Linked DNA regions of Homo sapiens: region 1 is linked to region 2. The links come from fine-mapping of genetic effects on gene expression. A gene starts in region 2. The other region holds a variant in brackets. All regions are shown on one strand. Distances are from middle to middle.

Region 1 (5,192 bases), 39 kb after region 2:
AGAGAGATACAGACTCACACACATTGGACAGAACACACCACACCCCAGGCACCCCCAGGGCACCCGCGCACTCCGAGGGGCCCAGCCAGAGTGGCTGTATTCTTCCGTTCTTGCACTGCTGTAAAGAAATACCTGAGACTGGGTAATTTCTAAGGAAGAGAGGTTTAATTGGCCTGTGGTTCTGCAGGTACAGGAAGCATGGCTGGGGAGGCTTCAGGAAACTTACCATCTTGGTGGAAGCGGAAGCGGGCAGGTCTTACATGGCCGGAGGAAGGGGTGGGGCGGTGCCACGCACTTCCAGACAACCAGATCTTGAGAAGTCTTATCATGGGAACAGCACCAAAGGGGGAAGTTGCCCCCAGGATCCAATCACTTCCCACCAGGCCCCACCTCCAGCACTGGGGATTACGTTTCAACATGAGATTTGGCCAAGGACCCAGGACCCAGAGGGGCCTGCACAAGCTCTGGAGGGGCCACCGCTCCTCTGGTGTCTTCACTGCCCCCTCCACACCTCCGGGCTGCCCCAAGCTCACCCAGTCATGCCTGTTGCAAGGTGTCTGACAGAGCCAGCGTGCAGGGGGCGGAGCCAGCGTGCAGGGGGCGGGGCCAGCCCCTAGCCCCAGGCCCAGTGGGGAGCTGACTGCTGCTTGGGGGCTGAATCAGGCCTCGACTCAGGGTGGGGCCCAGACTCCTGGACCCTGCGAGGACCTCCTCAGAGCTGTCCACAACTGCCCTGAGCTCCCTGGTCAACAGGGGCTGGTAGTCAGGGTGGGGGCCCTTCTCCCCCTTTCTTCGTGGATCTGCCAGCTCTTGGGGATCCTGTTCTCAGGGCCCTGGTGGGTAGAGCCACACCACAGGCACTCAGGCTGCAGGTGGCCACTCCCCTCCAGCAGCCCAGGCAGGAGGGCCCCTCAAAGGCCCATTGTAGGCACGTCCGTGTGGCTCCCCAGCCCCCGCAAGCTCACGCTAGCGCACGCCACCACGCCCGTCCGTGGTCCCGCCCGGGGCGGCTTCTAGGTCAGTCCTGGGCACAACTTCGCAGGAGGAGCAGCGGCAGGTGCTGCAGGCAAGGGCCGCCATGGCTGGGGGTGTGTGGGGCCGGAGCCGGGCCCGGGAGGCTCCCGTGGGGGCTCTAACCCTGACAGCACTGACTGAAGGAATCCGGGCCAGGCAGGGGCAGCCCCAGGGACCCCCTTCCGCAGGCCCTCAGCCCAAGTCCTGGGAGGTCAAACCTGAGGCTGAGCCACAGACCCAGGCACTCACCGCCCCCTCTGAGGCAGAGCCTGGACGTGGGGCCACCGTCCCTGAAGCTGGCAGCGAGCCCTGCTCCCTCAACAGTGCCCTGGAACCAGCCCCTGAGGGGCCCCACCAGGTGACGGGGGAGGGAAGGGATGTTGTGCGAACCGGCCTGGGGGTCCTGTGGATGGTAGGTGGAAGGCGGGGTGGCAGGGGGGCGGTGCTGGCCCCGGGGGAGGTCAGCGTGAAACAGGCTGGTGAGCAACAGAGGAGCAAGGGATTTTGTAGGAAGCCAGGTGGGAGGCCGAGGGACCAGGAGGAGAGCTAGGAGAGGTTTGGGCACTTCAGACGCCCCACCCATCCTGCCCTAGGTTCCCCAGAGTTCCTGGGAGGAGGGAGTTCTTGCCGACCTCGCGTTGTACACGGCTGCCTGCCTGGAGGAGGCTGGCTTTGCAGGGACCCAGGCGACAGTGCTCACCCTGTCCTCAGCCCTGGAGGCCCGGGGCGAGCGGTTGGAGGACCAGGTCAGCCTTCACCCACTTCATGCCCTACAGAATCCTGCCGGTTCGGGCACCAAGGTGGTGGGAGGGGCCTGGAGAGCGCAGCCTGACCCTGCCATCTTCAGGCTGCTCCTGCCAGGCGGGATCAGGGTGGGGGTGGAGGTGGGGTGCAGGCCAGAGGGGAATGGACGGTGGAGGAGGCCTGACTGCTGAAGTCTGCCCCCTTCCCCACCAGGTGCATGCTCTGGTGCGTGGGCTGCTGGCGCAGGTGCCCAGCCTAGCGGAGGGGAGGCCCTGGAGGGCGGCCCTGCGAGTGCTGAGCGCACTGGCCCTGGAGCATGCGCGGGACGTGGTGTGTGCGCTGCTACCCCGCTCTCTGCCCGCCGATCGGTAACCCAACCGTCCTGGCCCTGCGGTCCCCACGCGGCTTCCTTCCCTCTTCCCGCTTGGCGGTGGAGTCTGGCCCCAGAAGAGGGAGCTGAAAAGGGGCAGGGCCTCCTTATTCCAGCCCCGCGATGACTCATGCCCCGTATCCATTCCCGCTCCCCTCATTTTTAGCTCCGCAAACTCCCCCCACACTCCTGCCACAGAGTTTCTGATGCTGGGCTCCTCTCTTGGAGCCACCTTCTATCTTCGGGTGGCCTCCCCTGGAGACCGTCCTGGGGTTGGCTCCGGAGTGGGGTGAATGAGGCTGGGGGGCTAACGTGCCTGGACACCCCTGGCTCTTTGGTTAATTGGCCCCAGAAGTTATCTTTGGTTTTATTCTCTGTGGCAATTTTTTTCTTTTTAATAATGCCAGGTTTGTTTCACTGTCGCTGACCCAACGGGA[C/T]TCCCAGTGGGTCCCCACCCTGCAGCTCAGCTTGAGATAGGCTATGTTGTGGTCTGCACAATTAACCCTTCATTTGTTTCTCTGAGATTTGGGGATGGGGGGAGATGGGAGGGGTTTCCTGCCCCTCCCCTGCTGGAGTCCTACTGGCTGCCTCCACCCTGGCTGGGGACTCCCTACATTCCCTGGACACCCACCCATCTCTTGTCTCACACCAGCCCCCTCCAAACCCTCAGGGTAGCAGCCGAGCTCTGGCGCAGCCTAAGCCGTAACCAGCGTGTAAATGGGCAGGTGCTGGTGCAACTGCTGTGGGCGCTGAAGGGTGCTTCGGGGCCGGAGCCCCAGGCACTGGCGGTAGGTGGCTCCAGCCATTACCAGGGGGTGGGGGCGGGGGTGGGGGGTGGCGAGGAGCGGGGAGGATGGGCATAGGGAGTTTGCACCTAGGTAACTGCTCCTGGAATGTCCCATGCGTGTCTGAGGCTGTCCCCATCCTGTTGACAGCACGCCTGTCCCTCTGCTGCCCAGTGCAGCTCCAGGCGTGCCCCAGGCCTGAGTGGGCCACTTGCTCCACAGGCCACACGTGCTCTTGGGGAGATGCTGGCTGTTTCGGGCTGCGTGGGAGCCACGAGGGGCTTCTACCCACATCTGCTGCTTGCGCTGGTCACACAGCTGCACAAGCTGGCCCGCAGCCCGTGCTCCCCCGACATGCCCAAGATTTGGGTTCTGTCCCACCGAGGGCCACCACATAGCCATGCCAGGTGAGAGGCAACACCAGGTTACGTGGGGCGGGCCAGCATGCTGTCACCCTCTCAGCTCCCACTGCCCACCTGCTCACTGTCCCCACCACCAGCTGTGCTGTGGAGGCCTTGAAGGCGCTGCTCACCGGGGATGGAGGCCGCATGGTGGTCACGTGCATGGAGCAGGCAGGAGGCTGGAGGAGGCTGGTGGGAGCCCACACCCACCTGGAGGGCGTCCTGCTGCTGGCCAGGTGAGGAGGGTGAGGAGGGGCCCCAGGGTGTCACACCAGGAAGAGAGTCGTTGCTGGCCAGGTGCTGGGCAGGGGGACAGGGAAAAGGCAGGGGCATGAGGGTGGTGTTGGGATGGGGTCTTCTCGAGGAGAAAGGCCGCCAAACGGAGCGAGAGCTCCCATTTCCACCCACCCCAGTGCTATGGTGGCACATGCCGACCACCACCTGCGAGGCCTCTTCGCAGACTTGCTCCCTCGGCTTCGCAGCGCGGACGACCCGCAGCGTCTCACGGCTATGGCCTTCTTCACAGGGGTGAGCCTGCTTCCCGGATGGGTGGTGAAGGGTGACCCTGGACTTGATCCCTGAATCGCAGCGGCCTGCACGGGGACCGCGGGCGTGCTGACCCCATGTGCCTCGCCTAGCTGTTGCAGAGCCGGCCCACCGCACGGCTCCTGCGGGAGGAGGTCATCCTGGAGCGACTCCTCACCTGGCAGGGAGACCCCGAACCCACTGTGCGCTGGTTGGGCCTGCTGGGCCTGGGCCACCTCGCGCTGAATCGCAGGAAGGTGTGAGAGAAGGGGAGGGGTGGAGAGGGGCTTGGCCCGGTCGCGGCGAGGTCTGCAAGAGGCTGACCCCGAGTCCCAGCAGGTGCGGCACGTGAGCACGCTGCTGCCGGCGCTCCTGGGCGCACTGGGCGAAGGCGACGCGCGGCTCGTGGGTGCAGCGCTGGGCGCCCTGAGGAGGCTCCTGCTGCGGCCCCGGGCGCCTGTGCGGCTCCTGAGCGCGGAGCTGGGACCGCGCCTCCCTCCGCTACTGGACGACGTGAGCAAACGCCCCGCCTCCGGGTCCCGCCCCTGCCGCTGTCACCGCCCCCGCCCTTCCAGTCTCTCCCTCCCAGGCCCCGCCCCCGTCTCTCCCGCCCAGGCCCCGCCCTCTCAGGCCCCGCCCCGCCCTTCCAGTCTCTCCCTCCCAGGCCCCGCCCCCAGTCTCCCTCCCAGGCCCCGCCCCGCCCCTCCTGTTTCTCCCTCTCATGCCCCGCCCCGCCCCTACAGTCTCTCCCTCCCAGGCCCCGCCTCCCAGGCCCCGCCCGCCCCTCTAGTTTCTCCTTCCCATGCCCCGCCCCCCAGTCTGTCAGTCTGTCCCTCCCAGGCCCTGACCTCCCAGGCTCCGCCCCGCCCCTCCAGTTTCTCCCTCCCAGGCCCCGTCCCCCCAGTGTCTCCGTCCCAGATTTCTTCCCTCCTGACCGCCCCCGCCCCTCCCGCCTGCTGTCGCCCAGCTCCGCCCCTCCAGGGCCGTGTCCCGCCAAGCTCCTCCCCGCTCGACTTTTCCTTCCGGACCCCATCCCTTCAAGCCCCACCCCCTGCAGGGGCTCTCCAGGCTTCCCAACCAGGTCCAGCTCCAGGCCCTGTTCCCTGTCCCCAGATCACACCGAGTCAGCAGCCTTCCCTAGACCCGCCGCTTCCTCGCTCCGCGCTGGCCGCCCCCTCCCACCCTTGCAGCCCCTCTCTGTCTCCGCCTGCCCTGACTGCGCCCTCCCACGCAGACACGGGACTCAATCCGCGCCTCGGCCGTCGGGCTCCTTGGGACTCTGGTGCGCCGGGGCCGGGGCGGGCTCCGGCTGGGGCTCCGCGGCCCCCTGCGGAAGCTGGTGCTGCAGAGTCT
Region 2 (5,192 bases):
TGGCAGCTCTGTGCTGAGCCGTCCCCCACACCCAGGGACTGCCCCCTAGCCTGGCCAGTCCCAGGACCCACTATCCCCCTGGCTTACTGTTCAGCCCCCAAGAGCTGGTGACTCCCTGGGGTGGAAAGGCCGCAGAGGCTGGAGATGGGAAGGCACACGTGGGCAGGCAGCAGGCAGGCAGCAGTGAGACTGGTGTGGACTGTCAGCTGGACAAGGATGTGCAGGGCAGGGCCAGTCCCAGCCCCTCCACATGTGGCCACCTGCAGGCCTGAGTAACTTGAGCTCACCCGGACCTCCCTGCCTCAGCCTGAGGGCTCTGGGGAAGCTGGTCTAGTGGGCCAGAAACGTCTAGTGAGCCAGCCGAGCTGAGCCCATGGATGGATATGAGGGGAGGCTGATGATTGGGTGGCTCGGGCTTCCCCTGGCCTGGCCCCTCCTCTCTGTGGCTCTCAGGCTTGGGCGTGGGTCCCCCACCTGGCCTTATCCCATGGAGAGGGACAGGTGCCTGCTGGACAGGTCAGCTCCAGCCACCAGAGGTGGGGTGTCATTGCTCGCCGCCCCCGTCCATTCTCAGAGGGGAGACAGCAAAGTCCAGAATGGTTCCCGGGCCAGTGCCTCAGCCAGGCAGGGTGGCGCTGGGGTATGGACCAGGAGCACTGGGCTCCAGGCCCCGGCTTGCCCGTCGCCCCCTTTCTCAGTGCCTCTCACAGAGGGAGCCCCTATGCCAGAACCCTCTGGTCCACTGCATCCAGGACCCAGATGCCCTCCCTGGCTCCTGGCCCAACTCTGGGCCCACGTCCTCAGGGTCCCTCTCCTGGGCGCCCTGTGCCGTCTTCACGCACATGATGCCTTTTGGCTGCAGGTAGGACCTGCTGCTTCACTTCTTCGTTCATTCCGGCAGCGGTGATGTGTCCTCCCTGTCCCGGCACTGAGTCCAGACCGGTGTGTCCTGCACCCAGCCAACCGCTCACCTCATCTCTCACTGTCCCTTTGTGTCCAGCAAGCCGAGGTGTCCTCCAGGCCTCCCCTGAGACTGGCCCCCTCTTGGGTCAAGGCCTCCCTACCTTTTAGGCCTCAGCTGAGGTGGCCCAGCCTCCAAAACACCTTCCCTGATGGCACCTTCACAGCGCCTCTCGGAGCATCCACCCTGCCCTGCTGGGATTGTTTGTCTGGAAACCTCTGGGAGCCCCGCCTCAACCCCTAACCCTCCCGCTGACACCCCAGGACCTCGAGCTCCAGGAGACGGGTTGGCCTCGTTCACAGTGTATCCCCTGGCCCCAGCCCTTTGTGGATAAAGGCTCTGCCCATGTGGGGGTTCAGGAAAGGCCTCCTGGAGAGGGTGGCGCCTATGTGGCTGCTTGGATCCACCAGGTGAACAGTGGGAAGAAGCCCAGCCAAGAGCAGAGAGGTGCCCTGGACACAAGCCTTGGCTGGCTGGGTGTCCACGTCAGCTGAGGGCTCCCAGCTGATGCTCAGAAGCCCAGCCCGGCATGGGACGGAGAAGCTGAACGGGGCTGGGCCCCTGGGCCTCCTTTTACCCACTGTGGCCCTGGGCACTCAGCCAGCAATCCTCCTTCACCTCGCCTCAGTCCACTTGTTTATGATGAGCTTTGTCCTTATGTATGATGGCATGGCACTGGATGCCTCTGGCCCCTCTCACCTCCCCACAGCCTTGGTCCTGAGCCATCACTGGCCCAGGGGGCCTGGGAGAAAATCCAGGGAGTCTGTGGGAAGGGGCTGGGAGGATCCGAGGTGGCAGGAGATACAGCTGCTGACGCTGTGTGCTGGTGCAAAGTGTCCACCACCCACGTTTCTCGGCTGCAGTGGCCGAAGCAGCCTCCTGGTGGCTTTCTGTCCCTTTCCACCTCATTTGCTTCAGAGCCTTGACACACTGGCTGTCCTGCGTGTGTGCTGACTGTAGTCTGTCTACACTGCCACCAAGCAGGGCTGCAGGGTGGGGTCCAGCCTGTCCCATCTGCTGCCGTGGGGTGATCTTGCCCAGGCCCAGAGCAGGGCCCAGAGGCTGCAGCTGCACAGTGAATGTTGAATCAATGAGAGGATTTCATTACTGAAGAGCTTAGAAAATGTCAAAGGCTTGGGCCGGCACGGTGGCTCACGCCTGTAATCCCAGCACTTTGGGAGGCCGAGGCAGGTGGATCACGAGGTCAGGAGATTGAGACCATCCTGGCTAACAAGGTGAAACCCCATCTCTACTAAAAATACAAAAAAATAAGCCGGGCGTGGTGGCGGTCGCCTATAGTCCCAGCTACTTGGGAGGCTGAGGCAGGAGAATGGCGTGAACCCGGGAGACGGAGCTTGCAGCGAGCCCAGATGGCGCCACTGCACTCCAGCCTGGGCGACAGAGCGAGACTCCGTCTCAAAAAAAAGAAAAAAGAAAATGTCAAAGGCTTCAAAAGAAAATAACATATGTAACATGCAGCTTTAGATTGGATGATGAAAAAACCGCACTCAGATCTTCAAGCCTTGTTTTCCTTGTGTCATTAAAAGTGACGAGTACCCCCTCCCCGACTGTCCCCTCCGTCGGTCTCAGGCCCCTGGCCCTGGCCTGCTCTCCGTGACCTGGGTCTCCGCCCCTAGTGCTTCCCCGCAGCTCCACCGTCTGTGGTCGGCGGGGCCTCAGTGACCGCACGCTCTGGACCAGCCCCGCAACCCGCTTCGCTACCCCTCCCCTCCGGAAAACCAACATGTGCTCCTCGCACGCGCGACCGGGACCCCTCCCCGCTCCTCCGGCCTCTCCGAGCGCGAGTACCCCGCCGGCCCCGCCCCTTACGGCCCCGCCCCCAGTTTCTCTCAGCCAATGGGCAGTGAGGGGCGGCATAGCCCTTTCGGGCCAATAAGCAGCGAGAGGCGGGGTTCCCGCGCCTTGCGAACTTGTAGAGTGCGGACAAAAAGCCGGCCGGAGTGTGCCGTCCCAGTAACCAATCGGCGAGGGTGGGGACGGGGAGGCGAGTCCTATTGGAGGGCGGGGGTGGGGCCTAGATCTGTGGGCGGGGCGCGGCCTGTGGATGGGCGGTGAGCGCAGCGGCGTCCGAGGCAACAAGATGGCAGCTGCGGAGCCGTCTCCGCGGCGCGTGGGCTTCGTGGGCGCGGGCCGCATGGCGGGGGCCATCGCGCAGGGCCTCATCAGAGCAGGTGGGGCGGCGCGGGGCTAGGCCTGCGGTCTGGAGTGGGAGCAGCCCCGTGGGAGGTGTCCTGCCGCGAGAGTGGGGCCGGGGGCGCGGGCCCAGCCAACCGGGTCTCCGCTCCGCTGGGCGCAGCCGGGGCCACGCCTGTTTGCTCTTACTTTTTTGACGTGGCTGCGGGAAGATTTGAGTCACACGTGGCTAGGTGCCGCTTCCGTGGCCGGCTTCCTGGCCGCGTGGCCTTGGCCAGGCTCACCTCTTCCAGCCTCTGATTTTCTCTTTGCGCGCCAGCCCCTCTCATGGGGAGCAGCAGGGCTTCTCCCCCAGACACCTTGGCTCTAGGGACACCTGGGCCAGACTATCCATCCTGTGCCAGCAGCACCCCCACGTTGTGACAGCCAAAAATGCCTCCAGACACTGCCGAATGTCCCCTGGGTGGGGGGAGGAGACAGGCAAAATCATCCCCTGTTGAGAAACACTGCTTTATACCCGGAATATTTATGCTGACCATATACTCCTCCAGGCATTTAGAAGCCTCTCTGCAGATTGTGGATAGGGAGAGCTGGGTGACTTTTGACTCTCTGCCTTCAGCCATACTTCAGGGTCCAGAAGAGTCAAGATCAATCGGGAAATAGCTTACTATGAGTCTCAGGAGTCTTCCCTGTGAAACCTGGCAGTACCGCATGCCTCCCAGAGCTGTACAGGTTAAATGAGACATAAATGTCTAGTGTTGAGCTTAGTACTGGTGTGTTTGGCTGCCACTGTCATGATTAATTGCTGTGTTCAGGTTGTGGTGTACACTTGTGCCTTCCTGTTCGACCTTACCAAAATCTAACCCAATCTTTCCACCCCGTACCCGACAAAAGCAGATAATTTCTACCAAGTAGGCATTTAGCCTTTTCTTAGACATTCCAGCATAGACTCTCCCTCTCGAAGAACCTGGGCCCCGATTGGGCCTTCTGTGGCCAATCAACTGCCTTTGTACCCACCACATTCCCCCAAGGCCTGGTGTTCCTCCAGAGGTACTGCCTCTTCTGCTCCAGGCAGCCTTCCCTTCCCTGGAGGCAGAGGCCCCAGGGATCTGTGTCCTCACCAATGAGGTAAGCTCCTGGCCTCCATACCCAGCAGCAGTCAGGGGCGTTGACCGCCAAGTAGAATCAGTGGATCTGATTGCCTGGGCCCAGTGAATGGTGCATCCCGCTTTGGGTTCCTGGGGCCAGGAGGGGGCCCAGGATGGGCCAGGCGTGGCTGAGCCTGAGAGGCCAAGTGAGCTCCCTCTCCTCTCCGTGCCATCCTATCCCACCCCTTCACCAACCCCTCTTCCTTTTCCTTTCTTTCCAGGAAAAGTGGAAGCTCAGCACATACTGGCCAGTGCACCAACAGACAGGAACCTATGTCACTTTCAAGTGAGCATAGAGCCCAGGTTCTTCATACCCTCAGGAGCCCAGGATAGCTCTTGGCTCCTGTCCCACTAAGACACTTATCAGAGCCAGGGATGGGTGGTTTATTTAGCTGAAGTTTGCAGACTGGCTGGTCTGGGCTGGGAAAAGGGAGATTAGAGGCCAGGAGGAAAGTAAGGTTGTGGAGGGCCAAAGCAAAGTGTTTGTGTGTGTGTGTGTATGCATGTGTGAGTGCATGTCCGTGAGTGTGTGTATATGCACGTGTGTATATGTGAGGCTATGCGTGTGCATGTGTGTATGTATGTGCTCATGTGCGTTTGCACGTGCGCTTGTGTGTGCGTGTGCACGTGTGGTGAGTGCATGTATGTCAGTGCATGTGTGTGCGTGTGTGTATGAGTGCATGCTCATGAGTGCATGTGCACCTGTGTGGTCGTGAGTGCACGTATGTGCTTGTGCATGTGTGCCTGTGCAGATGTGTATATGAGTGCGTGTGTGCGTGTATGAGTGCGTGCGTGTACACATGAGTGCATGCTCGAGTGGGTGTGTGTGCATGTGTTTGTGCTCATGAGTGCATTCATGTGTACATGTGTATGTATGCTCGTGAGTGCATGTGTCTGCGTGTGTGTATATGAATGCATGCTCGTGAGTG

Which allele goes with the higher level. Alleles are on the strand shown, and positions count from the first base shown. SD is a standard deviation of normalised expression in the study named.
As copies of C replace T in region 1, the expression in fibroblasts of the gene that starts at base 3,036 in region 2 goes up (small effect, 0.12 SD a copy in GTEx).

What was found.
Region 1: its variant is fine-mapped to the expression of PYCR3 in fibroblasts (GTEx, PIP above 0.99). The same link has a PIP of 0.9 or more in hippocampus, lung and nucleus accumbens.

What each region holds. Positions count from the first base shown.
Region 1 is chr8:143,568,601-143,573,792 of GRCh38, reverse strand. It overlaps MROH6 (maestro heat like repeat family member 6), which reads left to right and starts at 1,021. Exons shown (of 14, transcript NM_001100878.2): 1 at 1,021-1,372; 2 at 1,608-1,760; 3 at 1,972-2,126; 4 at 2,799-2,916; 5 at 3,136-3,320; 6 at 3,413-3,550; 7 at 3,728-3,842; 8 at 3,953-4,096; 9 at 4,179-4,352; 10 at 5,074-5,192. The coding sequence starts at 1,079. It also overlaps a transcript of NAPRT not described here. RefSeq lists an enhancer at 1,663-2,512. The variant C/T (reference allele first, on the strand shown) is at 2,566.
Region 2 is chr8:143,607,419-143,612,610 of GRCh38, reverse strand. PYCR3 (pyrroline-5-carboxylate reductase 3) reads left to right here and starts at 3,036. Exons shown (of 6, transcript NM_023078.6): 1 at 3,036-3,153; 2 at 4,485-4,549. The coding sequence starts at 3,063. RefSeq lists an enhancer at 1,429-1,928.